Regions from separate parts of the Homo sapiens genome. Here region 1 is linked to region 2. Evidence: fine-mapped expression QTL. A gene starts in region 2. The other region holds a variant in brackets. All regions are shown on one strand. Distances are between the middles of the regions. Region 1 overlaps LOC124903926 (a long non-coding RNA gene). Region 2 holds the start of TMEM220 (transmembrane protein 220).

The links. PIP is the estimated chance that this variant, and not a neighbour inherited with it, causes the effect.
Region 1: its variant is the best candidate, but not a certain one, in a credible set for the expression of TMEM220 in aorta (GTEx, PIP 0.80).

What each region holds. Positions count from the first base shown.
Region 1 is chr17:10,880,886-10,883,798 of GRCh38, reverse strand. It overlaps LOC124903926 (a long non-coding RNA gene), which reads right to left. Exons shown (of 2, transcript XR_007065619.1): 2 at 2,904-2,913. Among named protein-coding and RNA genes, the nearest start is that of PIRT, 44 kb to the right of the region's middle. The variant C/T (reference allele first, on the strand shown) is at 1,628.
Region 2 is chr17:10,728,821-10,731,733 of GRCh38, reverse strand. TMEM220 (transmembrane protein 220) reads left to right here and starts at 1,711. Exons shown (of 6, transcript NM_001004313.3): 1 at 1,711-1,954; 2 at 2,674-2,703. The coding sequence starts at 1,883. TMEM220-AS1 (TMEM220 antisense RNA 1) reads right to left here and starts at 1,957. Exons shown (of 4, transcript NR_073458.1): 1 at 1,834-1,957. RefSeq lists enhancers at 1,086-1,672, 1,673-2,259 and silencers at 1,653-1,892, 1,903-2,072.

The DNA.
Region 1 (2,913 bases), 150 kb before region 2:
ATACCCCTTGTTCCACTGGGCCTGGAGGTGAGGCAGGGCTCCTTTTTGCCCATTACTCCTTTTTGCCCGTTACTGATCTTCCATACCACTGCCCCCAACACTCCCGGTTTTAAGGGTCATGCGGCCATACCGAACAACCCACTACCCTCCTTGTCATAGTCAACTATTGAGCCCTGTGTCATTCCCCTCATTTCTACAAGATCCCGGCACCTGGGTCATGGTCACCCTCTCCCATACTACCTCAGCTGTGATTCTCAGTGATTTTGCTTTCCATAGAGAAATCCCTGCAAAGCCCTGGACTGCCCATTCCATGACCTCCTCTTTTCTGGGGATTGTTTTCCTCCATCCTAACTCATCCACTCTCCCTTATAGTCATGCCCTAGACCTTTTTACACAAGTAACTGCACTCTGTTATCTCAATTCTAAGAATCCTACTTTCCAACCACCACTTCTCATTTTCAGTTTGCCAATTCCAAAAATTATTGACCCCTCTATAAACTAAATACATGATTATATCTAAATATATGATCAATACATGGTTGTACTGTCCCTCAACTCCTCCATTGCCTCACTCTTCTTATCCAGCTTCCATTCAAGTAGGTGCTGTTACCATTACTCCCCAGAACATACTCCAGCTCCTTTTTTCCTCACTCCCTAATTCTCACCTAGGAAAAAAAACCCTCAACCCTTATTAAATCTCACTCTCTAACTATTCTGAACCTTTATCCAAGCAGCTGAACTTAGTGGGAGAAAAATACGCAAGCATATTGACTGGCCTATTTCAAATGCATGAGATCCTACCTCAAGGGGCCCAAATGCTACCTTCCAATCCTACTCCATTTCGCAAGTCATCCATTTATATGCTTTTCTGCCTAGTGTGATTGGAGAAAATCCAATTAAGAGACTAAACTATTATTTTGTAACTTCTTTCTCCTCCTCACTCTGGACTAAGAAAATAGAAGCAATCAGAAGAAAATGTTGCAGGCTTCCACCAAGACATCTACCACCCTCAGGGCATTTGTCCTAGAAGCTCTGCATTCCCACTCAACATCACAGATGAACTGAAAGCTCTAATGCCAGCCCTTCTGCTTGAACCCTAGGTCCTCATTCTCTTTTTCAATAACAAGGTCATTGATCGGTCAGCCACGCTGTCTCCTGCACCATCAAATTTTCTCTCTCTTCTTGACCTTTTCCATCCAATGCAAAACACAAACCCTTTGCTCACCCTTTACCTACTTCTAGTTCCCACTCATTTCTCTGCTCTCCTTTGCAGAATGGTCTCCAATTTCTGACCTCTTTTTCCATCTTGAACTCAATGCTTTTGGGCTTTTTTGCCCATCACCTCACCAAAACAGCCCTTATCTAGGTTTCCAATACCTCCATGTTACAAAGCCCAATCATCAATTCTCGGTCTTCATCTTACTCAGTCTCTCAGAAACATTTGACAATTTTTGTCCCTACCTTCTTCCTGAAAGTCTTTTATGATTTGCCTCCAGGATGCTCTTTTCTCTAGAGTCTCCTTCTACATCACTGGCCACTCCTTCTTGGTTGTTTCTCCTGGTCCCTGCTCAGATCTCAGACGTCTGAACATCAATGGCCCCAGACCCAGCCCTCGGCTTTCTTTTCC[C/T]GGTCTACCCTTCTCACTAGAGACCTCTCTAAGACCTCTTTCAGGCTCATGGTGTTAAATGCAATTTACACTGATGGCTCCCAGGTTTATCTCTCCTGCTAGACCTCTCTCCTGAATTCCACATGCCTCAACCCAACTTTACATCTCAGCTGGATTCTTAACACACATCTCAAACTTTAAACGAACAAAACCCAACTCCTGAGTCACATACCTCCCAGTCACATACCTCCCAATTCTCTCTCTCTCTCTCTCTTTGTCTCTCTCTCTCTCTCTCTCTCTGTCTTTCTCCCCTTGCTCAAAAACAGCTTCCCGTCGCACTCAGAGTAAAAGCTAGGGCCACCTGCTACCTCTCTGATTTCATCTTCCACCACTCTCACATGGGATTATTCTGCAACAGTTGCATTGGTCTTCTTGCTGTTCCTTGAATATACCAAACATGTTCCAGCCCTCAAAACCTTTGCACTTTCCATTTTCTCTTCTTTAAATGCCCCTCCTCCCAGAGAGCTTCATGATATGGTCCTTCACTGCTTTCAGTCTCCGTTTTCATGCAACCTGATTTGAGAGACTTTTTCTGACAACTGTGTTAGGTAGCAATTCCCTTTGTCCCCATCCTGGAACCAGAATGGGAGTTCTGGGTGAGCAGGTTGTATCTGAAGGGCTTAAAACAGTACCTAGGATGTGTATAGGTAATTTGTAGCTATTTGTGGTAAGCTCCTGTCCTTTTGGAGCTCACACTTTAGTAAGACAGACAAACATTGAATAATTAATGACACATATAATTAATCCTATTGCTGAAATATGTTGTGAAGAATAATTATAGGCCAGGCATGGTGGCTCATGCCTGAAATCCCAACATTTTGGGAGGCTAAGGTGGGTGGGTTACCTGAGGTCAGGAGTTCGAGACCAGCCTGGCCAACATGGTGAAATCCCGCTTCTACTAGAAACACAAAAATTAGCCGGGTTTGGTGGCATGTGCCTGTAATCCCAGGTACTCAGGAGCCTGAGGTGGGAAAATCGCTTGAACTTGGGTGGAGGAGGTTGCAGTGAGTGAAGATCACACCACTGCACTTCAGGATAGGCAGCAGAGTGAGACTCCCTCTCAAATAAAAAAAAAAAAATTACAGAGTAAATTTAGGGTATACGAGTAGCATATTCAAGGATGTTACATAAAAAGGAATATGGCTTCCAGACCCTAAGCTATGGGAACTCTCTAACTCCTTAAGGATCAGAGTTACGTGTCTCTTAGAAAAAAAAGGATGACATAGACATATCCAAATTGACTTGTC
Region 2 (2,913 bases):
GGTTGGTTTCTCATGAGGCCTCTCCCCTTGGCTTGCAGACGGCCGTCTTCTCCCTGTGTGCCCATGTGGTCTTCCCTCTGTAACTGTCCCCTCTTCGTATCAGGACACTAGTCATATTGGATTAGGGTCCACCCTATAACCTCATTTTAACTTAATCATCTCTGTCAAGTCCCTGTCTGCAAATGCAGTCCCATTTTGAGGCACTGGGGGTTAGGGCTTCAGCATATGAATTGGGGGTGCAGGGGGAATGCAAGTCAGCCCCTAGCACTCTCGCTCTCATTTTTTTCTTTTATGTAAGGAAAAGCACAGTGAGAATAGTCTTCGCTTGTTTCCAATCCCAGGGCTGATTTAGCTGTGGAACTCCACCCAGTGCTGGTCCCCGCTGTCCCCACCCCACCTCTGCAAACACGGGTGCCCACCCCCGCCAGCCGCCAGGCTCCCTGCCTAGTCCCGGCACGGGACCTTCACGGTCCCAGCACCAGGCACAGAGCAGACAACGTTCTTGAAATAAGTGTTTCGTGAAAAGAATGAAACTGAGAGGGAAAGAAAAAAAAAACTAGACAGTTTTAGGAGATTTAGCTCAAAGGAAAAGAGGACAGGCACAGAAGCTCCTGATTTGAAGCGATAAAGACTCTTTAGAACAGCAGAAATGAGGCCTATGGATGTGTAAATGAGCCCGGGGAGGAACTAAGCAGAAGGGCGAATTACAAAACAGAAAAAGACCAGACAGACTAGGGGAGAACAGTGAATATTTCAGTGTCTTCGGTTCATAAGAAATTCATGAGCAATTTTGGAAATTTTGTTGGTTTTGGTGGTGGGAGAGAATTGTAAATATGTATAATATGTAAATATCTTTTATAATAAAAGCCCATGAAGATAAATGAGCCTGTCTGCCGAAAAGCTGTGAGCCGTATAAGATGTTAATATAACTGTCGTCACTCTAGAAATTACCATAATGCTTACAGGGATTTGAAAGTTCCTGAGCTTTGGAAGGAAATGCATAAATACTAAACAGAACACACACACACACACACACACACACACACACACACACACACACATCTCTTTTTCTTTCTCTTTCTTATTTTTGTAAAAACAATTTTTATCCTTTTTTTTTTGAGGAGTCTCGCTTTGTTGCCCAGGCTGGAGTGCAGTGGCACAATCTGGGCTCACTGCAACCTCCGCCGCCCGGGTTCAAGCAATTCTCCTGCCTCAGCCTCCTGAGTAGCTGGGATTACAGGCTCCCGCCACCACGCCCGACTAATTTTTTCGTATTTTTAGTAGAGATACGGGGTTTCACCATGTTGGCCAGGCTGCTTTCGAACTCCTGACCTCAGGTGATCCGCCCACCTCGGCCTCCCACAGTGCTGGGATTACAGGCGTGAGCCACTGCGCCCAGCCCTTTCTTTCCTTCTTTCTTTTTCTTTCTTTCTCTTTCTTCCTCTCTCCCCTCCCGCCTGCCTTCCTTCCTTTTTTCCTTCTTTTTTTTCTTTCTTCTTTTTTTTTTTTTTTGTGAGGAAGGTAGCTTTAGTGAAAACAGGGTTTGGAGTTGAACCTATACGGGTTCAAATTCGACTTCCGTCCACCACCGAGACCTGCGCTCCCTGAGGGACTCGCTTTCCCATCCGCGAAACCAGGACGGCGCCGCCTACACCCCGCGGCGTTCGGGGCGGGCTGAATGGGTCGCTGAGTGGGGGCTACACCCACGCCCTTCGCTCCCCGCCCCCGGGCGGAGCGACGGCCACGGCAGTGTCCCCAAGGCACCGAAACCGAGGCGGGGGTCTCGGTCCCTCCGCGCAAGGAGGAAGGCGGACCGTACGTGGCAGGACTCACCGCCCCGCACGTGGCAGGACTCACCGCCCCGCGCCGTGTTCTCCGAGCCATGGCGCCAGCGCTGTGGCGGGCCTGCAACGGACTCATGGCCGCCTTCTTCGCGCTGGCGGCCTTGGTGCAGGTCAGGCGGCCGCGGTGGGAGGGGGACCCGCCCGGCTCCCAGCTCCGCCCCCTGGCCTAGCGGGCCGTGTAACTGACTAGCGGGCAGAGTCGCAGGGGCGCACAGTTAGTGGGGAGGACGGGACTTGGGCTTTCTGCTTGGGGAGCCCCCACTTTCTCCCCCGTCTAAGAGACGCGGATGTGTTCATGGAAGCGAGTCCCATACCAGGGCTCACACCCTGGAAGGGGCTGGTTCCGCGCGTGGAACTTCCCAGGGGACCTCAGAAGAAGCGGCCCTGGCTCCTGCGTTAACGTCCGGCCCGCGGACGACACTGAACATATCTCAGGGCCTAGGAGACGAAGCCGACCAAAACCCTTTATAGCATCATTAAACTTTTTAGTCGGCTTGGGGACCCCCTTCATAATCATTTCCCTCATTTCTTGAGACTGGTGGGGGTGGAGGGCCCTTAAAATACCCGTTCTGGGTTGGCGAGTCCTCTCCAGAGCTCCCGTGAAGGCTTTTCAAAAATGTGTGGCTGCCTGTTAAAAACATCTGTTGTGTCAGCCAGAAACCCCTTCACCCGTCCTCATCTGGACTATATCCTGTTCAGATTTTGTACCCTCGATGCCTATTGCAGTGTCTGGCACTTAACAAATTAATAAAAAATGTGCTTAAATGAATTTAAAAGGAATGGAACAGCACAGGATGTCTGCTAACACCTTGGTATTCTGGCGTTCCAGGTAAATGACCCAGATGCAGAGGTGTGGGTGGTGAGTATGAGCCGCTTCCAGGCTTTCCTCCGTTTGGAAGAATTGGGGAACGGCACAAAACACACGGTTTTATGTCTTTACCCCTCCTCCCTGCTTAATTTTCTGAGAAACTTAAAAATCAAACCCTTGGGAAGCGCTTTTTCCTAAAATATTAATAGGCAGGATCAGAGTTCTAATGTAATGTGTGTGTGAATTTCGAACTTTCTGGAA